7 separate regions of the Homo sapiens genome follow, and all the other regions are linked to region 1. Evidence: fine-mapped expression QTL. A gene starts in region 1. Each other region holds a variant in brackets. All regions are shown on one strand. Distances are between the middles of the regions.

Region 1 (4,069 bases):
ACATGTAAACACAACAGGAACCAGACTTCTGAGTAGCTGCAAACTGCAGTTCTCTGTGATGGGAGAACATGCCCCAGAACAGCCTGTCAAGTGGTAATTGCCAGCCATCCTCAGTCACATATGTATAAACAGAAAAGAAAAACAAAACGAGGGCTCAAATAAAAAGCGTTAACATTCATTAAACGCCTGACACTCTATTAAATGTTTTTCATGCATTACCTTCTTTAATCCTCACAACACCCTTCCAAAGTTGAACATGAAACAACCACACTGGTTTATATCACTTTAAATGTAAGACTACACGTCTCAAATGGGCCCTGAGCACTGCCTGGGAATCCAACTCTATTTCTCTAGTACGCTCACTTTCACCCTCTCTAGGACTCTGTCACATATCTCTCCTCCAAGTTCCCACACCTTTCCTCTCCCCCGCTGCCCTCCCTCTAAGCTGATGGATGCCTATACCAATAGACTCTTTTCCCACCACCCACTGTATCTGCACCTGTTATCTCAGCTTCCCCTCTAGTTACAACAGAGTAAGTGTCCCTGCTCATTTCAAAACCAACTACTCACCTGCTTAGGGTCTTCTCCTTTCTCAGGTATTCAACAACTACCCTTTACAATGTTCCCCTCTTTCATCTGCAGCAGTTTTTCCTTTCTACGAGTTTAATCACATTGCCATATAAACATTCTGCTTTCTTCTATCTTGAAAAAAACTCTACCCAACCTTAAGGCCCCTCTTCCCCATTAAAGTTGTTCTTGTCAAAATGATTAAAATCCTCCTAATTACCAAAGTCATCTTATACGGTAACATTCAACATGGTTGACCACTACCTCCCTCCCTTTTTTGGCTTCGCCTCCTCTTCTTTGTGTACACTATTAAACTAGATGTCTTCACCAGTCCCATATATTTTAAATACTATGTACAGTATATGATGCCGATTCCAAAGGTTAACTCTAGCCCGACATCCTCCAGAACTTCAGATTTAAATTTCTAAAAAGCACATTTGATATCTCAACCCAAATATCTACTAGATAATTTATGTGTGTATATTTCACCATACTAAAAAAAACTACCAGGTGACTGATAAATGGAGAGAAGGTGAATAGGTAATGTGAAAAATCAAATGTGCTAAATATTCATGGCACCTGTAGGTGGTAGGTGGTCAGAGTCCTCTGCAAAATTCTTCCCAGCTATGCTTATGTCTTCTATTGGGAAAAACCTACTGGGCATCTCAAACCTAACACATTCAAAACATAAGTACTGATTCCACAACTTCCAAAAATGAAACCTACCCCATCCTACAGTTTTCCTTGAGTCAAGGCTAGCATATGAGGGCCTTGGCATATGGGGGCATTGCCTATCGCGTTCATAGATATTCTGAGCTTCTAGAACAGCATCTGGCACACAGGAGGCGTTCAAAATAGCTGCTGAATGGATTGATGAATTCATGTTCTTTCTTTCTAGGTCCCTCGACCTCCACCCGCCCTTGAGTCATTGGGAAGTTCTGGGCTGTCTCAGCGCCTGATGATGGCTTCTTACCAATCATACCACACGGCTGCTCCTCAGGGAGTTGGTGGCATTCCCCTACCACAGAGCCACAGGGTTCCTGTCCCGGTCCCGTCTCGCATAGGCGCCCCAACACGCGTCACAGTGCAGCTGGCATCACACGGCCAGAATCACGTCCTGCCCTCTGGCTGCAGCGACACTACTTCACAGCTCAGGCCCACCCGGGCAGTCTCCCGGGCCAGGGCCACAACCCACGCCTTGTGACCCCTGCACGTCAACGGCATCTTCCTTCTTCACGCCCGCCCTCCCACAGCCCGGCGCAGCGGCCTCCCGCACGCCCCCTGCCCACCTGGCCCCCAGCCACCTTTCCTCACCTGGGCCTGCGGGGCCGCCCCAACTGTCCCGCTGCAACCCCAGCAGCCTCGCCAGTTGGGTCCACGCCTAGCCTGCCGGCCTTCGTCGCTATCCAATCCCACCTGCGCCCGCGAGCCTGCGCACTGGAGCTTTGCCCTGCGCCGCGGCACTCTGCCCTGCGCCGCGGCCCTCTGCTTGCCAGGCCGGGAGAGACAGAACCTGCCTCTACCGGTCTTCCAAGGCACTGAGAGCCCATCGCCGCGGACGCCGCTGTAAATTCCCTGCGGGCCCTGTGCACCACCCTGTGCGGGTCCCCCTCTCCCAGGCCAGGCTGATAATGTCAACAGCTCTCTGAGCTATGCTCATATCCTGAACCACTGAGGACTGTGTTCTCCAGGAATGCTCGCCTGACCCACGCCTGCCCTCTAAGCCCCTAATGAGGCCCCAGAGGGCTGGGGTGGGGGGGTCTCTTTGTAGTATCAGAGCAGGGCAGATAGGCAAAAGGAGTCAGAGCCTGTGCCAGAATATGAGGTCAGTTGGCTGCTAGGTCAATTAAGACAACTTCAGCAAGGGTGGTCAATGTAGAGGGAATTCAATCGTTGGCATTGCCTGAAAACAGGAAGCCAGAATCTTTTTATCTTGACGAACAAACCTCTATTCATTGGTCCTGACCTGAGCCACTTTGGTGAATCCAGATACCCTGAAGGTGTGACAAGACCTGCCTCACTTATCCCCCAGCCTTCAGTGCTGGTCCCACAGAGAGCCATATGCTTGAGCTGAACTGCAGTTAAGCAGTGACAGCTACCCTCTGTCCAGGCTCTGAGGCCAGCCTTCTGCTCCGTGAGTCACTGACAGTGAGTCTCTACAGAGACTTTTTCTTTCTGTAGCAGCCAAGGTACCCTGCAAGCAACCCACGCCATTGCCATATGTCTTAGTTTGTTTGTGTTGCTATAAAGCAATACCTGAGGCTGGGTAATTTATAAAGAAAAGAGGTTTGTTAGTTTCACAGTTTCACAGGCTGTAAAAGAAACATGGCACCACCACCCGCTTTTGATGAGGGCCTCAGGAAGCTTCCACTCATGGCAGAAGACAAAGGAGAGCCAATGTGTGCAAGACAGAGGAAGAGAGAGAGGTGGGAGGTGCCAGGCTCTTTTCCATGACCAGTTCTCATGAAAACAAAGACTAAGAACTCACTCAGTTCCATGAGACTAGCACCAAGTCATTCATAAAGGATCTACCCACATGACCCAGACACTTCCCACCAGGCCCCACCTCCAACATTGGGGATCAAATTTCAACACTAGATTTTATTTATTTATTTATTTATTTTGAGATGGAGTCTCGCTCTGTCGCCCAGGCTGGAGTGCAGTGGCGTGATCTCAGCTCACTGTAATCTCCACCTCCCCAGTTCAAGTGATTCTCCTGCCTCAGCCTCCCCAGTAGCTGGGACTACAGGAGCATGCCACCATGCCTGGCTAATTTTTGTATTTTTAGTAGAGACGAGGTTTCACTGTGTTGGCCAGGCTGGTCTTGAACACCTGACCTCAGGTGATCCGCCCGCCTCAGCCTCCCAAAGTGCTGGGATTACAGGCATGAGCCAACGCACCCAGCCCAACATTAGATTTAGATGGGACAAATATCCAAACTATATCACCAGGGTAAGATTCCCCTTTAAAGATGGACCCCATGTCTAATGTTTCTTCATAGTGCCTAACATCAAGATTCTGCACTGGTCATCATTTCACAAACATGAGCAGCATGGCTGCTCCAAGACACACAGAGGGAATAACCCCCATTCACATCACCAGGAAATCCTTGCATGGAGGCTAAATGAACAGTTGGTAAGAGTGGACCCTGAGGTGTCATTCCATCTCCCCCAGACTTCCTGCTTGACCACACAATATTCCCAGAAGCCAGTGACCCAGAAGGCTCTTCTTGGCTTTCTGTCCTTTTACCTGTGAAAAATTCGAAGAACTATAAAGTTTAGGGCCCATCACAGTTTACTACCCTTCTTTGGAGGCCTCTTTAAACCCTTGAGTCTTACCAATTACCAGTAGCACTAGGAGCTTTGCAAGCCTGGCCTTAAGTCCCTGCTTTGCTACTGAATAGTTGGTGACCTTTGGCAGGTTACTTCCCAACTTGTGTCTCAGTTTTCCTTTTTTTAAAAAAGGAGACACAGTTGCAAGTGTTTAATGAGACAAAAAACAG
Region 2 (4,069 bases), 100 kb before region 1:
TTTGTGGGTTCCCAGTTTCCAGCATGCTGGAGCTGTCTCCAAGCCCAAGTTGTGCATGGAACAGGCATGCAGCTAATATTCAGAATCAGGATGAGCTCACTCTGCTACCAACTTGCATAATATTTATTTATTCACTCATTTAACAAAGTTTCTGGGGACTAGAAAATACCTTAGGTACTGATAATACAAAATGAATATGGCAAAGATTGAAATACGTTTGAACCAAGGTTAATATCAGAGGTAGGTATTGAAAGTTTCAACCCAACAATCAGCTTGTAAAACAGCGGTCTGTTTTCTTTCCCTTTTTTTTTTTTTTTTTTTCAAGAGGGGTTGAATTATTTTTGTGAGGGTGCTGGTAAGAGGAAGCTCTACATGAATTATTGGAGAATAACAGTTCTGAAAGGAGATGTGGCTGTTCTAAGCCCAGCCTGGTGCTGGTCTCCCCAGTGTCTTTCTCTCGAGAAAGAAACAAATGAAAGTTGATCTCAGCAACCAGGACCCATCTGGGTACCCACACCTTTCCTTCCCAGCAGCCCTGCAGGGTTGAGGCTTGTTCTCACAGCCTGGAACACAAGAATAGCATGTGTTCCAGATGGAGCAGAATGATTCTGGCCTAGGAAAGACATTATACCGAATGGGTTTCAGATTCTTATTGGTATCTGGGAAAGGACAGACAGCCACTTCTACTTAAAGAAATGCCCACAATCCCACTTCCCATCATGGGCAGAACATGCACATGAACTGCACCCCACAGAGGACCCTGTGTACAGGGTGGTGCAAGGCCAACATAAAATCAAGTCAGGCCAAAGAGGAAAAGTGTCTTTGCCCAACCGCGGTATTGTGAAGGGAGCCTTGCACAGCTGAGTCACTATTTTGATTCAAAGACTGTCTATTTCTTTTTGTCCTCCCTTTGTCCCTTTGTTTCCTTGGTTGAAATTGTGCTCGGTGAGTGAACTGTCCCTGGCCTGCTACTAGGGTCAGCAGGGCCTGAGTCTCATGTCACCTTTGATCATCATTGGCAGCTTCTCCAGCTCCCTGAGACAGTCAGGGCAGGGGGCTTTAAAATCTTTGAGCAACTGTATACATAGAGGGCTGAATCCTAGACACAGCTGACATATACTATGACTTATTTCATTTTTAACCAGTAAGTCTTGGGTCTATCTGTTATTAGCAGAAGCTTCTAAGCAAAACAAGAATTCCAAAATTCAGGAGGATTAGCTTGACAGATTTCCCAAACACCTTGGACAGCAACATGAGTTAAAATGTGACCCCCATCATCACTATGCATTCATCATGACTAGCTTGCCTCTCTCAAAAAATGGCCTGGGAGAGAATGGGCCAGAGGTGCTGTTCTATCTGTCAAATGTGATCTATGTAATCATCCTAGTTGGCACTGCAGAATGAAAACTCAAATGTGTCTCTTCTCATTCCATGAAAAAGGAAAGCTCCTGAGGGTTCTCTGTGACAATACTTATGCTACTTATTCTTGGTCCTGTGGTGGCACTCAGTTTCTCTAAAAGCGAAAGGACATTATGGTGGCCTACTTCACCCAAATGCTAGGAGATCACACAGTGAAAGTCAGGTATTTGCATTCATTCACTCCTTAGAAACTATGTACTGCTGGAAACTGAGGAGCAGAGACATCCCCTGCCCCTACAGGACAGTGTTGGTGAGGATGGATTTAAAGACAACAGAGCAGAATCCGAGTTGCCCCCTGCCCTGATTCAACACCAGCTGTCAACATCAGCTGGCAGAGAGGAGGAAAAGTGGCTTCCAAAGACGAAAAGAACAATCAAGGAAGCCATTCGAAGATAGTAGAAAAGAAAGCAACAGTCAGCTCAAGAATACGCAGTAGATGAAAACTACAGCTTCCACACAGGAAGAGCTAAAGGAGAGAGGCCCTCAAAAAAAGGTTACAAGAAGAGTTTAAAAGTGAGTTGACCATTTTAATGATATTGATTCTTCCAATCATGAGCATGGAATGTTCTTCCATTTGTTTGCATCATCTGTGATTTCTTTCAGCGTGTAATTAATTCTCCATGTAGAGATCTTTCACCTCCTTGGTTAGATGTATTGCTAGATATTTTTGTGGCTGTTGTCAATAGGATTGTATTCTTGATTTGACTCTCAGATTGAACATTATTGGTGTATAGAAATGCTACTGATTTTTGTACCTTGATTTTGTCTGTTGAAACTTTACAGAAGTTGTTTACCATTTCTAGAAGCCTTCTAGTGGGGTCTTTAGGGGTTTTTTGGTTTAGAATTATATTATCTCTTATTTCTTTTTCTTGCATGATTGCTCTGGCTAGGACTTCCAGGACTATGTTGAAGAGAAGTTAATGGGTATGGGCATGAACAGACACTTCCCAAAACAAGACATACATGCAACC[A/G]AAAAACATATGAGAAAATGCTCCACATCACTAATCACTAGAGAAATGCAGCCACAATGAGATACCATCTCACACCAATCAGAATGGCTATTATTAAAAAGTCAAAAAATAACATGCTGATGAGGCTGTGGAGAAAAGGGCATGCTCATACATTATTGGCGGGAGTGTAATTAGTTCAGCCACTGTGGAAAGCAGTTTGGATATTTCTCAAAGAACTTAATACAGAGCTACCATTTAACCCAGCAATCCCATTACTGGGTATATATCCAAAGAAAAATAAATTATTCTACCAAAAAGACACATGCACTTGTATGTGCATCTCAGCACAATTTACAATAGTGAAGACATGGAATCAACCTGGGTTCCCATCAGTGGTGGACTGGATAAAGAAAATGTGGTACATATACACCAGGGAATACTACACAGCCATATAAAGAGAACGAAATCATGTCCTTTGCAGCAACATGGATGCAGCTGGATGCCATTATCTTAAATGAATTAATGCAGGAACAAAATAAAACAAATACTGTATGCTCTCACTTACAAGTGGGAGCTAAATATTGGGTACTCATGGACATAAAGATGGAAACAATAAACACTGGGAACTCCTACAGTGGGGAGAGAGGGAGGGAGGCAAGAGTTCAAAAATTACCTATTGAGTACTATGCTGATTACCTGGGTGGTGGGATCAGTCATATGCCAAACCTCAGCATCACGTAATATACCCATGTAACAAACCTGCACATGTATCCCCTGAATCTAAAATAAAAGTTGAAATTTTTTAAAAAAGAGAGAAATGACTTAGCATGTCAATGAAAGACTTTATATTAATGACAAACTCTAGTGGAATATATGTCCATTTTCTTCACTTTTACGTAATAAAATTTAAAACTTTCAAAAATAAAAGATAAATGAGTCGACAACGGTGCTTGGGGAAAACAATTCTTGTTTGTTAATACTCTCCAACCCAGCTCTTTTGCCTTCCAGCTGGCTAGTCATTAAACAGTTAAATGAAACAATAAAGTGTGCTCACTCCCTCTGTGTATGAGAATTATGTTTCCAACACAATAGATTCCTCCATAACAACACTGAATGTTAAGAGAAAGTAAGTGAAACAATGTCTACAAGCCCTCCAAGTGAGAAAAAAATGACACATGAATTTTATACAGAGCCAAAATGTCACATACATATAAAGAACTTCAATTAATTGAAAGAATGCCAGAAATCAAGGACAGTAGAACTTGTGAGCCCATCTTGGAAAACCTTTTGGAGGATGAACTGTCATCAGCCAAGTTATGCATAATGAAATTTCTATATACTAGCTAAAGAGACAAAACAAATTTGTCATTACATTATGCTCTTTGGATATTTAATTCACTCCTCCTTATCCTAATATTCCTAATTTCATAACCAGAAGCTGAAGTGATGTCACTTTATCCATGTAAGTTCTTCTCCAGGCTCTTCAGGTGCTAATATGCTTAAATCTCTTCAAATATTTTATAGTGTTTGTTTTTGTCGACAATTGGAATATGACCATGTTCCTGCCTGTCCTACTTATTATACGGGTGTGTCAAAAGGGCAAGTGTGTCACAGGGCAAGTGGCATAGCACCAGGAGATACACACCTGCACGAATGTCCATGTATCTGGGTGTGGGCAACCAGAGTGCACATGAGAATGA
Region 3 (4,069 bases), 400 kb before region 1:
AAACAATGCTAGGGGGCCCAACTGTGTCAAGCTCTCCAGGCAACTCTGATAGGCATTTTGCACAGTGGTTTTGACAAAAGAGGGAACTCATAAGAGCCTTCCAAGAGAAAACATATGAATACATTGCCTAGCATGGTATTTGGCACATAGTAAATGCTACATAATTGGATAAATAAACATATTTCTTCTCCATCTGACCCACCTATCCCTGACCCATACAAACAAGCCTGCTGGGAGATGCTAGAGGAGCATGGCTTGGGGTTGGGCTGAGCGTGAGTGAGCGGACTGGAGGCAGGATAGATAGAGGATTCATGGACATTATTATCTCAGGGAGCAGAGAGAAGGGGAATGGAAATCCCAGAAACACCTGTGAAGGATCTTATGTTTCCAGGTTTTGATAAAGGGAAATAGTTTTGAACTCTAATGTTGGTGTTTTGGTGCACAAGTCACAGCCAGAGCTGGCCAGCTGGCCAGCCCTCCTGGTTTCTCACTGACACTACCTTCAAGCCCTCCCTGGCATGCGCTGCTGCAGACGCTCTTTGTGATGTCCTTATTCCACCAGCCAAGCCCGGCTCTTTCGTCCTGCTTGGTCTCAAAGTCAGCCTCTTTGTGGAGTCGTCTCCATTCCTCCTCCTCCAGAGTCTCCTCCTCTCATCCTCCCCTTCCCACCTCAGACATGCATAAGTTCCTCAGTCACAGCTTTGTCTCCATCCTGGCCACAGAAGAAACATGAGTTATAAGCTTCTGCTCTGATGACATTTTATGAAGTCATAGAGAGGCACCTATTGGGACACCCCAGGCAAAACACCTGGTAGTACCAGGACTCAAGTCTCCCCATTTCTCAAGTATAAAGGTTGTATTGGAAGCCTTCTGAAGTTTTCTCCCAGCCCTCAAGTTTTTAGCTCTCAATGGTACTATTTATGTTTGTCACATGAACTAATCTATAAGAGGCCCTGCCCTTCTAGAGGATGTGTAAATTCAGAGATGCGGCCCAGCTGCAGGCCACCACCCTGCTCCCTCCAGAATGAAACAGGCCCAGTTGAGTGACATCAGCAAACCGTGTCCAGACCGTATGATGGAATCTTTTGGGCTCTTATGACAATGTAATGTTGACATTTTTTGTTTTAAGGGAAAAACAAGTTATTTCATAAACATATTTCTTTTTAACCTCACTTTACTGTGTCCCAACCTCAGTGTTGTTGGGACAATCCTAGCAGACTGGGGATCACTGGCCAGGAAGTTCAGGGTCAGTGCCAGTCATGTAGGCCTTAAATCAGGCGGCCTTGAGCATCAAACTTAATGTTCCCTGTGGTCTTGGCAAGACATCAATGGACATGTTACTTACCCTTCCTGAGCTTGTTTTTCTGCAGCTCCAATTGGGCAGTAAGTTGCAAGGCTGCTGTGAGGCTAAGCAAGATCCTGTAACTGCGTGGTCTTCTATACATTGGAGGGGTCACTAATGATACCAGCTTCTCCTACTGTAGAGTTGGGACATGTCATGTCCCCAGTTGGGACCTGCCCCATTTCACATTCCAAGGTCTTCAGGGCATGCCCAGGAAAGATGGCAACAACTGAGCACCTTCCATCCAGGCACAGGCCTGGAGGCCATGCCCACAGCTGGACCCAGGGAGAGTGTCCCAGCCTGCCCTCCCCAA[T/C]CCCAGTAAGCCAGACATGAGGACTCAGAGGCATTCCAGGTATTTGGGGGGAATCCAGAAGGCCTCCCAGAAACTGCAAGTGCTAGAAAGAATAAGATAAAACTACTATTGGACAGCCCATGTTTAGCAAAAATAGAAAGGGGGCAGTTGAATGAGAAGAAAATGAGGGATGGAATATTCAGAAGAAAGGGACTTGGAGTTTTATTAAGCCCCAATATTTTTACTTATTTTGCTATTAACTTATATCCTGTCATGTTCCAAAGAGAATTAGACATGGCAAACCAAGCACTAAAGTGCAGGCCAGTTTGCGCCAGCCCAGCAACCTATAGCAGCTTGAAGGGAACAATTTGGTCCCATGTCCAGTTCCTGTGGGAGTAAGGGAATAAGGTGGTGAGTGTGGAGGACCATCCCACCACTCCCCTGACCTCTGTCAGCAGGCAGGGCCATGTGCCCAGCAGGTAGGGGTCCCCACGGCAGCTGCTCACGCATGTGTCCCAGGGTCACTTGGAGCACCTCATAGGAGATGCTGAGCAGAAGCTGCGGAGCTTCACCCTGGCACCCTCGCATCCCCCTCACCTACCAGTTCTGGCTAATCATTCTCCAGTTTCAATGGCTTCGCCTCCAGGAGTTGCCACTCTTCGGATGCTACCTAGGCTCCTGGAATCACTGTGGCTGCCTGGGCAGAAGGCCAGGGAACTGGGACTTTACATCGCCCTTCCCAGGGCAGCCAGAAGCCAAGAGGCCCTGAACACCCAGCTCCCTTGCTCGAGGCCACACTGCCCTGAGGAGTAACTAAGCTCCAAAGCTCCCCACAGGATTGCTCCCAGCCTGCTTTTCTGCTTCACCTCACCCTTGCCCATGTCTCCTGAGAGCACTTCCCCATATATCCCTTGCACAGGAATCCTGGTCTCCAGAGCCCAGCCTAAGGCCCAAGACAGACACCAGAGCTGCTTCTCTCCTTGGACATCCCCTCTTAGAAAACCACTATGGCTTTGCAGTTTCCTCTAAGACTTGGGGCCACGTCATCTGTAGGTCCCAGCTGATGGGACTGCTATATATACACCTGTCTCAAATTGGATCCAGATTCTCTTTCAGAAATGCTGGTTAAGCAGCTTCAGGCACTCCATCATAAGGCAATGTAAACGAAGGGCATAAGGGAACAATTTGGGGTGGCTTGGGTGATCCTTCTACACACAAGCAAAAGAGAAGCAGGTGCAGGAGACCACATGGCCCGTCCACTTCCTCATGAGTCCTTGGACCTCAGGAGAGACCCCTACTTATGTTGAATCTCTTGCTCCATGAATTACCAGAAGTAAAAGATCTCTGACCAGGCAACCATAGATGTTTTTTTAAACACCCCAGGCACCTCCCAATCAATCCATGTCCCTGAGGCTAGGGGATGAGGAGAAACCCCGAGAGGCCACTGTCCCTGTCTGGAGCCATGTCCATTCTCAACATCAGCCTAGCTTGGGTTTGCAGGAACCAGTAGTGGGACAGGCCCCTGGAAAGCATGGGAAAGCCTGGGTTTCTGGAGCCTGGGACAGACACCAGGGAGTATGGAGATGGCTTAGGGGACTCCAGCGACCCTAAAAGAGGCTGAGACCCCAGCAACCACCAGATGGTGTACTTACAGATGGGGAGCCAGTGAGATTTTGAAATGGGTGACATTCAGTTTTTCAAGATACCACTGTACCTTTAATTTATTAGCTTTCCATAAAAACACATAACATACACAATCTACAGTATAGAAAGTATAATTTACAAAAATATAAAATCTTGGTTATTTTTTAGTATTCCCACGTTACTATATGTGTTATTTCAATATGCATGTTTAAACAACCCACACTCAGCATGACTATCTCTGTGGGGAATGGTGTCAACGCCCTCCCTTTTTGTTGTTTTAAAATAAAATATATATATTAAGAAAAAGAAACCAATATTGGCTACATGTGCATACCATATGGATAAAAGCTCTGCAGTGGACTTTGAAAGGAAACACTCATTTACACCACGATTATCCTGTTTTCCAAAATCACTATGTGGCCCAAAGTGTTCTGAACTGAGCATTTAAACAGAGTTCTTTCCGTGTGCAGGGAGCGAGCGCCCTAAGATTTGCATAGTCTTCTTGCTCAGTTATGAGATGATGATCACATCAAGCCAATGTTGTGGATATGTTTTGTTTTCAAGCCTTCAGAACAGTGGGTATGAATGATGGGCCACTTTCAGGCCAGGGCTAATTCCCAGATTCCTTCAGGTACTCAGGCTGGCATTTAAGGGGCTAGTCACTAGCAATGAAAGACCCCCTAATGATGCACTGGCGGACAGCTCTCTCTGGGCCCCAGTGATGTTGCCCATGAGCTGTGCTCTGTGTCTGCAGCTGCACCACAAGTCCTGGTTGCAGAAGGCTCCGAGAA
Region 4 (4,069 bases), 86 kb before region 1:
TAACCCTTTGAAAAAACTTTTAGTTTTTTAGAGACAGGGTCTTGCTCTGTTGTCTCAGCTGCTGGAGTACAGCGGTGTCATCATATTTCACTGCAATCTCAAACTACAATCCTCCCTCCTCAACCTCCTGAGTAGCAAGAACTATAGGTGCGTTCCACCATGCCCAGCTAACTTTTTTATTTTTATTTTTGTTACCCAGGCTGGTTTCAAACTCCTGGCCTAAAGTGATCCTCAGCCTTGGCCTCCTAAGGTCTGGGATTATAGGCGTCAGCCACCATATCTGCCATAAAAAAATTTTATTTTATAATACAGATATACAGGAAGTTGTACAGGGTGGCCCTGTGTATCTTTCACCCAGTTTCCCAGATGGTGTCATCTTGTTTAACAAGATATAATATCAAAACCAGGAAACTGACATTGGGACAATCCACAAAGCTTAATTCAGATTTCACCAGTTTTACATGCAACTGTTAGTGAGTGTGTGAGAGTGTGTATGTGTGCATGTGTGCATGCACAGAGCTCCATGCAATTATATCATATGTGAAGATTCATGTAACTATAACCACAGTCCAGATACAGAGCTGTTCCACCACAAGACTTCCTCCTGCTATCCCTATAGAGTCACACTCATCCACCCCAATCTCTAACCCTTGGAAAATAGTAATCTGTTCTCCTTCTCTATGCTTTTGCTATTTCAAGAAGAAATAGCAAAATTCACTATATGAATAAAATTGCACAATAGCTAACCTTTTGTGATTGACTTTTTTCCCACCCAGAATAACTTGGAGATCCATCCAAGTTGTTGGTGTAACAATAGTTTGCTTCCTTTTATTGCTAAATAATATTCCATGATGTGGATATGTGCCACTTTATTTAACCATCAATTTGTTGAAGGACATCTGGGTTGTTCTGGTTTTTGGCTACTGTGAATATAATCTGCTATGAACATTTACATACAGGTTTCTGTATGAACATAAATTTTGATTAATCTGGGATAAATGCCCCAAGAGTGCTATTGCTGGGTTATATGTCAACTTTAGTTAGTTTTGTTTTTGTTTTCTTTCCAAGAAACTGCTCAATTGTTTTCCGTAGTGGCTGGTACCAGTCTACATTCCCAATGTCTCATACATATGGGTAATGTATGAGCAATACAGTTTCTCCAAATCTTCACATAATTCTCCAAATCCTCACCAGCATTTCCAAATCTTCATCAGCATGGGGTGCTGTCACTATTTTTACATAAGCCTTTCTGATAGGTGTGTAATGCTACTCCATCCTGGTTTTAATTAGCATTTCCCCAAGGGCTAATGAAGCTGAGCATCTTTTCACGTGCTTGTCATCTGTATGTTCTCTTTGGTGAACTGTCTGTTCATGTCTTTTACCCATTTCTGTTTTTCTTTTTTTTTTAACTATTGATTTTTGAGGGTTCCTTATAAATTCTAGATCCAAGGCCTTTGTTGGATATGTGCCCTGCATATAGTTACTCTCTAGCTTGTTTTTTTTTTTTTATCCTCTTCATTGGGTCTTTCACAAAACATAAAATTTTAGTTTGCTTTCCCTCTGAGATCAGTGATGGCAACAACGCCTGCTCTCACCACTCTTATTCAATATAGCACTTGACATTTTAGTACAGCAATAAGACCAGAAAATAAGTAGGATGTATACAGATTGTATACAGATCAAAAAGGAAGAGACAAATCTATATGCACATGGCATGACTGTCTATGTAGAACACACTAAAGAATCTAAAAAAAAAAAAACCTACAAAACCTCTAAGAGCTAATAAGTAATTTCAACAAGATCACAGGGTACAAGATCAACAAATGAAAATCAATTAAATTTCTACGTACTAGCAATGAATATGTGGAAACTGAAAGTACAAACACAATACCATTTACAATTGCTCCAAAGAAAATGAATAGGGTAAATTTAACAAAACATATACAAGATCTATACACTGAAAATGACAAAATGCTGATGCAAGAATTCAAAAAAGACCTAAATAAATACACTTACCATGTTCATGGATTGGAAGATTCAATACAGTAAAGATATCAGCTCTCTCCAATTAAACTACAGATTTAAAGTAATTTCCATCCAAATCCCAGCAAGTTTTGTGTAGATGTAGCCAAACTAATTCTAAAATTTATTAGAGAAAGCACAGACCCTAGGATAGCTCAAACAATTTTGAAAAAGGAGAATAACGTGGGAGGAATCATTCTATCTGATGTTAAAGCTTACTATATCACTACAATAATCCAAAGGGTGGTACCGGCAGAAGGATAGACACACTAATCAATAGAACAGAATACGGAACCAGAAATAGGCCCATACAAATATGCCCAATAATTTTTGACAAAGGTACAACAATAATTCAATAGAGGAATAACAGAATTTTCAATAAATGATATT[G/C]AAACAACTAGCCATCAATAGGCCAAAAAATGAATCTTCACCTAAATTTAATAATTTATTAACTCAAAATGGACTATGGACTTAAATGTCAAATATGAACTTACAGAATTTTCATAAAAGAACACAAAAAAATTATTCAGGCCCTCAGCTAAGTGATGAGCTGTTAGACTTGATATCAAAACATGATCCATAAAAGGAAAAACTAATAAAATACAATCTCATCAGAATTAAAAACTGTAACTTCTTTAAAAGCATTTTTTTAATTATAATTTAAGATTAGGCAAATTATGGAAATACATTTGAATTACTAATTTTTAATCAGTTTACTGACTATAAAACAAGCATGACTGGACTGTTCAGTTAAGAAAAGACACAGCTTTCCAAATGTGGCTGTAGTGGTTAACCAAATAATGAAGATGGAAGTGACTGCAATGAAATGAAGACAAAGAGTTATATAATTTTCACTTGGAGTTATGATTCCTCATATATTGAGTTTTATAGTCATTATTGATTGTGAAGCTCTAAAACTACACTTGTGTTATTTCCAAAGATGTACTGGTTAACAAAGCAAAGGAACCATTAAGACTTATTTGTAATTTACATAAAAAATAATTAATTCAAAGATAAAATAATTATCTTAAAGAGAATTAGATTAAAAAGACAAGAGAGGACTTCTGGTTCCAAAATAACAGTGTAGAAGCAAGCTGGCTTCACTTCTTTACAAAGAAAACCAAAACCAAATATACAGCACTGAAATTATCACCAACAATATCCCAGAAATCAAATACGAGGAGAAGACAGTTCCTGGATCCACAGAGATGGGAAAAAAACTCTAAGTAGGCAGTAAGAGAATTGGGTTTCCACATCTGCAATGCCCATTTCTCCAATTTGCCCAGCACCAAGAGTGCAAAAAATCTCCACCTGATTCATGATTTCTATACCAGAAAAGGTGACATCCAGGTTTCCCACCATCTGGGTTACCTGGCAGGAAACCTGTCCCTACCTCAACCCACAGGAAGCACTACATGTGCCTGAAGAAAGAAATACCCTGAGAAGAGTCAGAAACAAACAGGTGAGGTGGGACTACCATCCCCAGCCCTGGAAACTCTGGTCTGTAACTCAGCTAAAGGAGATGCCAAACCAGAGTGGTTGTTTAGTAGCACCACATTGCAGAAGATACATTGCACAGGACCCCTGGGCATGAATCTCTAGCCACCTTTCCCACACTGCCATGATATCTCCTTTGAGACTTTCCCTAATTGGAATGAGCAGCTCTCTTATTGTTTACTGGAGCCAAGGCAAACTTGGTCGTAAGGTGACATCTAGTGCCAAAAAGAAGGCAGCAACTTAGCCCCTCACCAAAAAAAAAAAAAAAAAAAAGAAAAAAAAAATTCGACAGGTAAATTACATAGAATCTATAACCAAATACATTCAATAAAAAACAAAAATAAGCCAGACAGAGAACACTGGAATAAATAACTAATCCTTCATTCAAAGACATCAATACAAGATATATATTTCTTGCACATCCAGAAGAAACTGCAGTCAACACAAAACCATGACCTCCCCAAATGGATAAAGCAAGGAACCAGTGACTGACCCTCATGAGATAGCCATATAAGAGCTCCCTGATCAAAAATTCAAACTAGTATTAATA
Region 5 (4,069 bases), 140 kb after region 1:
CTTGTTTTTATAACCTACTTTTTTGATCCCTTATTTTCTCACCTTTAAAATGGCATTGCCTACCTTATGAGTTGTTCTAAGGATGAGAAGACATGAAAATGTACTATAAATAGAAAATAAGATGCTAGCTATAATCTCAAGCGATTTTTGTATCTTTTTTTATTTTTATTGTTTTCTTATTTTACAGGATAACAAACTGGAAAAGATCACAAGGAGGTTCACCATGGAGCTAGCAAAGAAGGGCTTTATTGGTATGTGTAGCCACATAGATTTTGGCATAAAGTGGGAACATCTAAAAAAATCTTTTTTTTTTTTTTTTTTTTTTTTTTTTTTGAGACAGAGTCTTACTCTGTCTCCCAGACTGGAGTGCAGTGGTGCAATCTCCTCCACCTCCCGGGTTCAAGCAATTCTCTTGTCTCAGCCTCCCAAGTAGCTGAGACTACAGGCATGTGCCACCACACCCAGCTAATTTTCGTATTTTTAGTAGAGATGGGGTTTCGCCATGTTGGTCAGGCTGGTCTTGAACTCCTGACCTCGGGTGATCCACCCATCTCAGACTCCCAAAGAGCTGGGATTACAGGCATGAACCACTATGCCCGGCCTCCTACTATTTGTGATAGGAGCTTTTGCCAAACATACAACATTTTTGAAGACACTAATCTTCGTTTGCTTGATGTCTTCGTATCTTACTATTATCTGTGTTTATATGTTCTTTGTGTGTGATCTGAACATTCTTTCCTATGATATGTAAATATTTGTCATTTACCTTCTAATTTTCAGGCAGTTTAAACCTTTCTATACATATATTTTTAATCTAGAAGGCTTCTAATTTGTTTGAATAGAATATACATAATTATTTAATAAAATGCTTGGCCTATCAGTATAGTTAATAGAATGTTAATAGTTACTTAATAATATAATACTTGCCCTATCAGTATCAGTATAGTTAAACAAAATAAGGTCTACTTAAATAGGAAATAAAGTGTATTTTTCTCTACTTTCTTTCTCAGCATTTCCCCCACCATGGACAAATGCCTATGAAATTAAACTATAAAGTCTGGGCATGGTGGCTGGTGCTTGTAATCCCAGCATTTTTGGAGGTTTTGGAGGCTGAGGTGGGAGGATCACTTGAGCCTGGAAGTTCAAGACCACCCTAGGCAATATAGCGAGACCCCGTCTCTACAAAAAATGAAAATGTTATCCAAGCGTGATGGTGCATGGCTGTGGTCCCAACTACTAAGATGGGAGGATCCCTTAAGCCTGGGAGGTTGAGGCTACCATGAGCTGTGATCGTGCCACTGCACTCTGGCCTAAGTGACAAAACAAGACCACATCTCAAGAAGAAAGAGAAAAGAAATAAAGCTATTCAGATTCATTTTTAGGAAAAAAGTCATGAAATAAATGTCATGAAATAACCTAATATAGAAATACAGTAAGTATAGGTAACTCTAAAACTTGACTAGATTTGGCCTGTCTTTCATAATAAAAGGCATTTGGGCCTTTGACGTGCCGCATACCCAGCACTACTGTGAATTTGTGCATCATTACACGGAGCCTGTTAACATGAGTTAACTATCTCACTCACACTTTTATAGGAGTACCTACCGATTCTGAGATATGGTGAATTGAAGTCATGTTCAGCCTGTTAATAGCCTTCATAATTTTCAAAAGGTCTTTCCTCCTCGCCTAAATCTCAAACACATTTTATAGTCTTGAATGGTTTCAGACTTTATTCAGTCATATTTATCGCCCATATCTGCAATATCTCCAGCTAAATTTTATCAGTCTTGACAAGTACCTAATAATTCCAAAGGTCAAAAAGTGATTCATTGGAATACTGAAAGAAAACACAGCTTAAACTCTAGTAACTTGATTTATTTGCCTAATTCGCAAAGGCCTCATTGACCCATGATGCAGCTAAATTGACGTCTTGGCCCAGACAGCTTTGAAGCCTAGGAGGCAGGCAAAGGGAGTTTTTTCTCTCACTTCTCGGCAAACCTTCAAATTCGATGTTATTTATCTGTTATTTCCTGACACTCCACAGAGAGTGTCAGATTGAGGCTCAGACCTGAGCCTGAGCCCTGATCCTATCACATGTGTGTTTAGCATCAGCTTGTAAATTTCTGCAAAACAAAACAAAACAAAAAAAAAGAGGCTGGGATTTTGATAGGAATTGCATTGAATCTGCACACCAATTTGTGGAGTATTGCCATCTTCCCCACCCTCCCCAAAAGGGTTTTGCCCTTTCACCCAGGCTGGAGTACCAGGCAGCAGTCACTGCAACCTTGACCTCCTGGGCTCAAGCAATCCTCTCACCTCACCCTCCCAAGTAGCTAGAACCATAGGCGTG[C/T]GCAACTGCACCTGGCTAACTTTTTAATTTTTTGTAGAGACATGGTCTCATCACGTATCCCAGACTGGTCTCAAACTCCTGGAATCAAGCAATCTTCCCACCTCAGCTTCCCAAAATTCTGGGATTATGGGCATGAGCCACTGCACCTGACCAGTATTGCCATCTCAACCATATTAAGCCTTCCAATGCTGAATATGAGATGTCTTTCCATTTATTTAGGTCTCTGATTTCTTTCAATGATGTTTTGTAGTTCTCATTGTAGAAGTCTTACAACTAAGTATTGTATTCCTTTTAATGCTATTCTAAGTGACACTGATCTATCGTTTTCTTATGATGTCTTTGTCTAGTCTTTGTATCCAGACAATTCTAGCCTCATGGAATGAGTTGAGGAGTGTTCCTTCCTCTTCTGTTTTTGGAAAAGCTTTTGAAAGGTCAGTGTTCATTCCCTTGTGTGAGTGTAAATATCACCTATGTAAAGTTCTGCAGGACCCTGATGTCTCCACCCTTCTCATCCCCTTATATCTCTGTGCACCAAAATTACCCTTTCATCTCCTACTCTATAGTCACATGCTGTTAGAAAAGTTGCTTTTTTAAAAAAGATGAACTTCTGCCTCAGACCGTGCTCTCTATATAAGAATTTACCTGTTAGGCCAGTCGCGGTAGCTCATGCCTATAATCCTAGCACTTTGGGAGGCCGAGGCAGGCAAATCACCTAAAGTCAGGAGTTCGAGACCAGCCTGGCCAACATGGTGAAACCCCGTCTCCACGAAAAATAGAAAAAAGTAGCCAGGCGTGGTGGCGGGCACCTGTAATCCCAGCTACTCAGGAGGCTAAGGGAGGAGAATTGCTTGAACCTGGAAGGCAGAGGTTGCAGTGAGCTGACGTCATGCCGTTGTACTCCAGCCTGGGCAACAAGAGTGAAACTCCGTCTCAAAAAAATAAAAATTAAAAAAAAAAGAAGAACGTATCTGTTATTCAGGAGCTACTTGTAATCTGTGCATCCCAATACATTAGTTTGTATGGAGCAGAAAACTAGTAAGCCTAATAATTGATACCTTGTGATTTTGTTTTGGGTGGGTGAAGCTGTTGCATGTTTAACATGTATAGACTGTTTTTGAGAAGGATTTTATCATTATATGTTTGTGATTTACAAACTGTGTGCTTCAGACTTGCCACTTGCCAGAGCCCTTCTCCAATTGGAATTGTTTTTTGTTTTTGAGACAGTCTCACTCTGTCGCCAGGCTGGTGCACCGTGGCGTGATCTCGGCTCACTGCAACATCTGCCTCTGAGGTTCAAGCAATTCTCCTGCCTCAGCCTCCCGAATAGCTGGCACTACAGGCGCGTGCCATCACGCCCAGCTAATTTTTGTATTTTTAGTCTACAACGGGGTTTCACCACGTTGGCCAGGATGGTCTCGATCTCTTGACCTCGTTATCCACCCACCTTGGCCTCCCAAAGTGCTGAGATTACAGGCGTGAGCCACCGTGCACAGCCAGCTTTTTTGTTTTTAAAATATATTGTTTAATCAAGATGGGATCTCACTATATTGCCCAGGCTTGTATCAAATTCCTGGGCTCGAGCCATCCTCCTGCCTCAGCCTCCCAAAGTGCTGGGATTACAGGTGTAAGCCACTGCCCCAGCCTAGTTGGAATTGTTGTTTGAGGTAACAAGCTTACTTAATCCTAAAGCAAGCATAATACTTTCGTAGATGCCTCTAG
Region 6 (4,069 bases), 220 kb after region 1:
ATGCTCTAAACAATGTTGTGAGGTAAGTGTTATCTCTGATTTGCATATGAAGAAACATATTCCGAGATTAAAAAATTGCCCAGTTTCACACAAGGAATAAATTGGAGCACAGGAGTTCTATATAGATAGACCTGTATGACTTCACAGAGTGAAATGGACAGATAAACAATTCACTTTCCAGGAGAAATCACAGGACAATGGATATCAGAAGAAATGATGGGACCAGGGTAATATTGGATGTTTTGTATATAAAAAACTAATGTGGGCAACAAAAAAGCATATAAAGTCACTGAAGCAAAATATATATTGTGAAATCTAAAAGAAAATATGCTATTGGTAGGCCATGGCTACATTATAAAAAACATTTCATTTCACATAAAGTATGAATACTACACTATGACTATGAGTTAATATTAAAAAATTGACCACATAGGAAATAGGAGAAAAAAGTAACAACACTGTGGAAAGCAAAGAAAATGACTGCAAGATGAAGCTATCACCACCATCTCGTGGCCACATACGGACCTCCTCAGAAGCTTAGATGAATAAAGGGAAGAGACTGGAGTTATTAAAATTTGTAAACTCAGAGTAAAAGCCTTCCTGAGCTGAGGCTAGACCTCTGAGGGAGAGAAATGTTCCAACTGCTGCTGTTACCTCTGAAGAGGCACTTTCTGGGGCTCTGAAAAAATTGGTAAACTGAAACAATTACTGCTCCTAGGGCAAGGGGATGTTCTTGGGAGAATATCAGCAAGGACAGCAAACAAACAGGAAAAGGAGATCTATTCTTCCATTCTCTTGCCTATGTTTCTCTAGTACCTCCCAATAGCAGTACGTAGCAGGATCCCACTTGAAGGAACTTGGAAAACGTAGCTTGCTGATCCCCATCACGGCATCATAGCAAATTTATTTCAGAGAAATGTGGCTAAAGATCAAGATTATTAGTAAATCAATTTTTTTACCTAATTTTTAATCTGTATTGATTTCTTATAACATAAATATCTGTGGTTACAGAGACCTCAGTATTTTCTTTTTCTTCTGTAGCAGCATTTCAATCTTTTTTGAAGTTCTACCTCTCTTTCACTGCTAGTTCACACCATGTGAGAGCAATGGACCTAATCATCATGGGCAGTGGTCATAATATGTCTCAACCTGCCCAAAATAAAGATGCTACCCCATTAACCATATGTTTTATTTTGTAATACGATCATGATCCAACCTAGTCTAATGAGAAACTTAACTAGAAATTTTGTTGGAATTATTGAGGAAAACAGTGTTCATTTTCTGAAAAAGTAGCTTAGCTAGTAAGATATAAGCTCAGTGCTACTAGTGGCCATCTTGATGTGGAACAATACTGAGAATATTTCTTCAGGTAATCCTACAAGAAATGTGTGCAAAACAGAAAAGAGGAAGTTACAATGAGAAATTTCTTACGTACTATATTCAGTAGAGCCTCAGGGTAGCTCTAAATCTAGATACTTAATAAGAATACTACTGATAATAAATAATACTCATATAGCAAATACTATGTGCTAAGCATTCTTTCATGTACTTTATAAGATTAATATATCTAATACAAGGACTGTATGAGATAGATATTATTGTCCAGTTTTATTATGTCCTGCAAATAAAATGCCCTGACAAATTATATTCTCTCAATCATCTTTCCTTTGTTTGCAATCAACATTTTATATGTATTCACTTATTATGTATCACTCCTTTGATTCCTCAAAATTTATTTAGGGCTATATAAATATTTTGCTACTACTGGAATTAGCAAAACTTTAAGGTTAAATTTTCAAACATGTTATTGCCCTCATCATACTGTAGCAAGAATTAGTAATCAATGATACATAAACCCTATTTATTTATCCAAATTATTCCATTTCACATCCTCACAAAGGACACTATTCTGTCACCATTTAACCCTGTTCCCCAAAATCTCCTCATAAATGCAGTTTCAAAAACAGCAAATAGATAAATTGGACTTTATTAAAATTAAATTTTTTTTTTTGGTGAAATGGAGTCTTGCTCTGTTGCCCAGGCTGGAGTCAGTGGTGCCATCTTGGTTCACTGCAACCTCTGCCTCCTGGGTTCAAGCAATTCTCCTGTCTCAGTCTCCCAAGTAGCTGGGACTACAGGCACGCACCACCACGCCCGGCTAATTTTTGTATTATTAGAAGAGATGGGGTTTCACCATATTGGCCAGGCTGGTCTCGAACTCCTGACCTTGTGATCTGCCCACCGTGGCCTCCCAACGTGCTGGGATTACAGGCATCAGCCACTGCGCCTGGCCCTTAAAATTAAAAAATTTTTTTTAAAGTTTTTATTTTTTTGAGACAGGGTCTCATCATGTTGCCCAGGCTGGAGTACAGTGGCGCCATCATGGCTCACTGCAGTTTCAACCTCTCTAGACTCAAG[C/T]GGTCCTCCCACCTCAGCCTTCTGAGTAGCTGGGACTGTAGGCATGTGCCACCACATCCCAGTAAGTTTTGTATTTTTTGTATTATAGAAATGGGGGCCAGGCACAGTGCTCACTCCTGTAATACCAACACTTTGGGAGGCCAAAGTAGATGGATCACTTGAGGTCAGGAGTTCGAGACCAGTCTGGCCAACATGGTGAAATCCCCTCTCTACTACAAATACAAAAATTAGCTGGGCATGGTGGCACGCGCCTGTAATCCCAACTACTTGAGAGGCTGAGGCACGAGAATCTCTTGAGTCTGGGAGGTGGAGGTTGTAGTGAGCTGAGACCATGCCACTGCACCCCAGCCTGGTTGACAGGGCAAGTCTGTCTCAAAAAAAAAAAAAAGAAAGAAGTGGGGTTTCACCATGTTGCCTAGACTGGTCTTGAATTCCTGGGCTCAAGCAACCTGCCTGCCTTGGCCTCCCAAAGTGCTGGGATTACAGGTGTGAGCCACTGCACCTGGCCAAAATTAAAAACTTCTATGTTTCAAAGGACATCATTAAGAAAGTGAAAAGACAACCTACAGAATGGGATTAAATATTTGCAAATTGTGTATCTGTTAAGGGTCTAGTATTTAGAATATGTGAAGAACTATCACAGCTCCATAAGAAAAAAACAAATAATCCAATTGAAACAATGGGCAGGCCAGGTGTGGTGGCTCACGCCTGTAATCCCAGCACTTTGGGAGGCCAAGGTGGGCGGATCACGAGGTCAGGAGATCGAGACCATCCTGGCTAACATGGTGAAACCCCGTCTCTACTAAAAATAGAAAAAAATTAGCTGGGTGTAGTGGCGGGTGCCTGTAGTCCCAGCTACTCGGGAGGCTGAGGCAGGAGAATGGTTTAAACCCAGGAGGCTGCAGTTGCAGTGAGTGGAGATCGCACCACTGCACTCCAGCCTGGGCGACAGAGCGAGACTCCGTCTCAAAAAAAAAAAAAAGGGCAAAGAATTTGAAGAGATATTTCTCCAAAGAAAATGTGCAAATGGCCAAATAAACACATGAAATACACACATGAAAAGGTGTTGAAATCATTATTCATTAGGGAAATGCAAATAAAAATCACAGTGAGGCCAGGTGTGGTGGCTCATTGCCTATAATCCCAGCACTTTGAGAGACTGAGTCAGGAAGATCACTTGAGCCCAGAAGTTAGAGACCAGCCTGGGCAACATAGGGAGATAGGCGTGGTTTGAGCCTGTAGTTCCAGCTAGTCGAGAAGCTGAGGTGGGAGGATCTGCTTGAGCCTGTGCCGTCGAGGCTGCAGTGAGCAGTGATGGCGCCACTGCACTCCAGCCTGGGCGGCAGAGCAAGACCCTGTCTCTAAAATAATAATGATAATAATAATAATAATAGAGATACCAATTCACACCCACTAGAATGACTATAATAACTTAAAAAAAATCTCAAAAAAAAAAAACCCAAAAAACAAAACCCCAACAACTGTTGGTGAGGATGTGGAGAAATGGGAACCCTTATAGGGTTCCTTACTTATAGGGATGTAAAATGATACAGATGCTATGGGAAACAGTCTGGCAGTTCCTCAAAAAGTTAAACATACAGTTGCCATATGACACAGCAGTTCCATTCCTAGGTCATCCCAAGAGAAATGA
Region 7 (4,069 bases), 130 kb before region 1:
CAGGTGCCTTGCAAAGCTGTCTTAAGAATTGATGAGATGGTGAAATCCAAACCTCAAGCTAAAGCAAGTGGGGAGAAAATGGTCACTGCTGTGAACAGACATATCAGCAGCAGCTGTGGTGCATGGCAGAGCCGTCCCCCCTGCAGCATCATTCCACGAGGCGTGGCTGGGTAGGCCTTGCGGGGCCAGCACATTCTCACCCTGCCCACCTACCAAGGCCTGTTTGTGTTAATGTCACAGCTCTGAAGCATTATCATCAGAGGCCATGAGATTTCAAAGGAGCTTCCTTTGCAGAGCCACATTGCTCTGTCCATAATTAGCACAAGTTTCCATGAGCATGACGATGAGGCCAGAGGGGCTGCCCTGCAGGCTGGTTTGTTAGTGTAAGACATTCCTGGGGCATCTGCGTAGCCTGGGCTATGCTTTTCCAGCCCTCGCTCCCCCTGGCCCCTGCCCTCAGCAGCCCCCAGGCCCTCATTAAGGGATTAGCGATATGGGCCATGCAATCCCTTGGCCATCTGCTTGAGAAGTGCTGGGTTCTTTGCTCTGTCCCGCCTGAACCTTATCAGTGGTCCTCGCGCAATGTTTGTGTTGCAAAAATCAAAGCAGGTCTTGGGCGGAAATTATAGACCACTGGTGTCATGAGCTAATTAAAGACTACGGGGTCATACACAAGGGAGAGGACACAGATTTCTCCCACTGTCTGTCCTTCTGCTAATGGGACATTGACAAGCACAGACCAGGAAGAAGGCTGAGAAAGCCAGCAGCCCGTGAGAGTATGATAAAAGGTGACAGTGACAGGTCTTGCTTCACCAAGTACAGATTGGGGGATGCTCCTATCAGGGCCCAGCACCCGTCACAAAGGGTGTGGCTGTGGGGCCTGGCGGCAGGCTAGGGGCACTCCCCCAGCAGCCATCCAGAGCCTGAGGGAGGGGATCTGTGGGGGGACAGTCTCATGTTAATGGCAACACATTTATGACCCAGGAGGAAGTTTAGGACAGTTCTGAATGTCTACATCTCCATCATCAAAACAGATTAAAATTCAAGAATAATCTTGAACAATGGAAAATAGACAGGCAGGGAAAAACCAAAATGTAACCTTGAATAGCTTCTGCTGTTGTTCTCTGTTTACCAGGAGGCTGTGAGCTTCTTGAAGGGTTTGGCTCCCCCACATGCGAGGTCGGGGACTGGGGTGATCTAAGTGAGTGATGGGAGCTCAAACCCTTGCACATGGGATGAGATAACATCCCTAGGTACCATTTGAATGCTCTCTCCCCCTCCACACTCACCCCAGTTCCCAGCCCCAGGCAGATGGACCAGACTCCACTGCTGAATCTAAAGTAAAGGCGGCAAATGTACGACCACTAGGGTCAATATCTGGTGACTTAGGTCCTGATGAGAGTGCTTGCCATGATTCCTGCACAGAGGGTGATCCTGTACTAGAGGACTGGCTCCAAAGCTTCCACCGGCCAGGGAAGGGGTCACAGGAGCACATCACCACCCAAGCAAGTGTGATCCCTGCCAGGACTAGCAGTGCTGCAGTAGCCTTGCCCACTCTCCTGCGGTCAGGACCCCTCAGTGATGGCACACGTCATCCAGTTTGGAAAGATCATCCAGCCTCAAGACTGGGCAGCACCTCCCACTCAATGCACCCATGTGGCCAGCCCACTCTAGGGGTCCGGGACACGCTTCGGTCTGGGTGCGGGGGTATTCGAGGGGGGACTGCCATGTCTGTCAGGGAGTGTGGGAAGCAGATGCTGTAAGGTGCAAACCAGTAATTTTCTGGGGACACCTTCTGAGCCCCTCCTCCTTCCTTCAGCCATTCTCCATGCCCCCTTTTGCTGAGCATAATCCTCAATTTCTTTATTACTCAATCCAGCCTTCTCTGGCAGAGGAGTATCTACTATTTTCCAGGGGAGGCTTCTCAAACCAAGGCCTGCAGGCGAAATCCAGCCTGCTATCTATTTTTATCAATGAAGTTTTATTGGAATGCAGCCAGGTTGATCTGTTTATGCACTGCCTATGGCTGCTTTCAGGCTATGATGGCAGAGTTGAGTGGTTGCATCAGAGACCCTACGGCCTGAAAGCCTAAAATATTTACTCTCTGACTCTTTATAGAGAAAATTTACTGTCTCCTATTCTAGGAGGTATAGAAAAACTATTTTAGTTTAGCCTCATAATGTCCCTGGGCAATAGACGTTGATTTTCATTTGAAGGAAAGCCACCAAGGCTTGGCAAAGTTAAATAGAACCCAGCTGTTAGGGAAGGGAGGTGGGCCTCAAAGCCACATGTACTAACTCTAAAGACTGTCTTTTTGGCATTTGTCTTGTTGCATCTTTGGCAGAATAAGCCGAGGGTGAAATGTTGCCTTGATCCTGTTGCTGGAGCAGGGCTAGAGCTTTTACACCTCCCAAACCTGCAGGATGTCTAGTAACAGCCCCCAACTTTTCTCCATGGAAGTCCCGGTTAAAATCCAAAGACAAATGACCCTCTCCATATTATCCTCC[A/G]AGATCCAAAATTACTCATTCAAACAGCTCTTTCCTCTTCTCCTTAGGTTTGTGACATAAAAGTGTATCCACCAGTGAGCCTCTTCCTCCTCCCTTTGATCCAGGCATTGTGTGTGCATTTGGAGCCTGAGCCAGGTGGGTAAGGTGACCCTGGATGCCGCACGAGGTCCTTTTTGGGACTGGCAGGTGCCTCTTCACTGGGCAGTGGAGACGCAGGATGAGGGAGTTGATTTGTGGCTATAGAGAAGCTGTCAGAGACAGAACCTCTGGTTACTCAGTGATGGCCCTCCGGGAGTCAGGAACCCAACAGACCTCATCTTTAGTCTGTAGGATCCCCCAGAAAGCAGACGCGCTGGGCATTAGAGTGCCTCTTGTTCTCTCTATTGGCTGTCAAGCCTCTGAACGCCCTTAGTGCTTGAAGAACTGGCCCCAGCATGGATGAGTCCTGCAGGATTCAGGACCTAGCTGCTGCTACAGACACGGAGCAGGGCAGTCCAGACTCAGCCATCTTTCTGCTGCTGCACCCACCTACTTGTTACCTGAACTCTGCCACCCAGCAGTAAGCTCTGCCAGGCCTCACAGTGGGGTGGTGGGGTGTGGCCCACACCTCGCCACCACCCACCCCCACCTCCAGGTTGACCTCGGTGGTCAAGCTTGCCTTGATACCTTCCTGTTCTCCAAGCCTGTGCTCCAGGATTCTCTGTCAACCACCCCATCTGTTCAATAAATTCATTTTCTACTAAAGTCAGCCCACACCTGTGCAGAAACAGGGTTGGAGCAATTTAGGTGCCTTGTCCAAAGTGATAACAGATGGGAAAAGGCAGAGCTGGGATTCAAGCGCATCTCCTCTGACCCTAACAAGCACAGGCTGCTCTCGCTAGCCACACCCCTCTCAAGGAGCAGCACTGCTCTTTCTAGACCCTCAGAAATGGGCCACCTCCCAGATGCCAGGTGTGAGTGTCCTGACACCTGCCCCTCACTCTCCTCCCCAGCCAGGGCTTCTCTGATGAATTTTCCCAAGTCAGCCTCTTGAACTACCTGCCTTCCTGGGAAACACCTTCAAATCTGCAGAGGACCAAGTGGGCTCCAGAAATGAAAGTGGAGCATTTCACTGTGTGTGGAGCAGTGAGAAAGGGAGAGGGTAGGCTTGGAGAGTGCAGTTAGCCTGCATTGGGCATCCTGACCCGTCGGGCCCCAGGATGGGAGGGCACAGGAGCCTCCAGTCACAGGAGGTCCTTGGGGGGACAATGCCCAAGGCCTAGTTGAGGAAGGGGGCAGAGAGCCGGCTCCCAGCACACCTGCCAGGCCCCACACCTGGGACCTTGGGGTCCCAGAGATTTCTTTTCAATGCCTAAAGCTTTGCTCTCCGAGCCTAAGGACAAGTGGGCAGGACAGGGCAGGATGGCATAGACTTGACCTCCTTCCCCTTGTCCCAAGTTGCACTCTCCAGACATGGGCTGGCTGCACACATGGGCTGGACACTCAGGGGGAAGGTCAGACTTCCCAATCTGGGACCCTGATTTTGCTGTTCATGGCCAGGTGTCTGTCCCTTGGCTGTCAGC

Direction of the effects. Alleles are on the strand shown, and positions count from the first base shown. SD is a standard deviation of normalised expression in the study named. Not every link is listed here.
In carriers of allele C in region 5, the expression in thyroid of the gene that starts at base 1,955 in region 1 tends to be lower than with T alone (large effect, 0.93 SD a copy in GTEx).

Evidence for each region. PIP is the estimated chance that this variant, and not a neighbour inherited with it, causes the effect.
Region 2: its variant is fine-mapped to the expression of PTPN20 in blood mononuclear cells (TOPMed, PIP above 0.99).
Region 3: its variant is fine-mapped to the expression of PTPN20 in whole blood (TOPMed, PIP 0.92).
Region 4: its variant is fine-mapped to the expression of PTPN20 in whole blood (TOPMed, PIP above 0.99).
Region 5: its variant is fine-mapped to the expression of PTPN20 in thyroid (GTEx, PIP above 0.99). The same link has a PIP of 0.9 or more in aorta, atrial appendage, cerebellar hemisphere, cerebellum, esophagus muscle and nucleus accumbens.
Region 6: its variant is fine-mapped to the expression of PTPN20 in skeletal muscle (GTEx, PIP above 0.99).
Region 7: its variant is fine-mapped to the expression of PTPN20 in whole blood (TOPMed, PIP above 0.99).

Annotation. Positions count from the first base shown.
Region 1 is chr10:46,909,314-46,913,382 of GRCh38, reverse strand. It overlaps PTPN20 (protein tyrosine phosphatase non-receptor type 20), which reads right to left and starts at 1,955. Exons shown (of 11, transcript NM_001042357.5): 1 at 1,882-1,955.
Region 2 is chr10:47,009,574-47,013,642 of GRCh38, reverse strand. No RefSeq gene overlaps it. Among named protein-coding and RNA genes, the nearest start is that of PTPN20, 100 kb to the right of the region's middle. The variant A/G (reference allele first, on the strand shown) is at 2,391.
Region 3 is chr10:47,312,836-47,316,904 of GRCh38, reverse strand. It overlaps GDF10 (growth differentiation factor 10), which reads right to left. Exons shown (of 3, transcript NM_004962.5): 3 at 3,328-4,069. Among named protein-coding and RNA genes, the nearest start is that of GDF2, 7.6 kb to the left of the region's middle. The variant T/C (reference allele first, on the strand shown) is at 1,656.
Region 4 is chr10:46,995,057-46,999,125 of GRCh38, reverse strand. The region is part of intron 9 of PTPN20 (protein tyrosine phosphatase non-receptor type 20); the gene reads right to left. Among named protein-coding and RNA genes, the nearest start is that of PTPN20, 86 kb to the right of the region's middle. The variant G/C (reference allele first, on the strand shown) is at 2,413.
Region 5 is chr10:46,766,921-46,770,989 of GRCh38, reverse strand. It overlaps the pseudogene GLUD1P2. Among named protein-coding and RNA genes, the nearest start is that of FAM245B, 28 kb to the right of the region's middle. The variant C/T (reference allele first, on the strand shown) is at 2,351.
Region 6 is chr10:46,688,916-46,692,984 of GRCh38, reverse strand. No RefSeq gene overlaps it. Among named protein-coding and RNA genes, the nearest start is that of FAM245B, 50 kb to the left of the region's middle. The variant C/T (reference allele first, on the strand shown) is at 2,419.
Region 7 is chr10:47,035,769-47,039,837 of GRCh38, reverse strand. No RefSeq gene overlaps it. Among named protein-coding and RNA genes, the nearest start is that of PTPN20, 130 kb to the right of the region's middle. The variant A/G (reference allele first, on the strand shown) is at 2,508.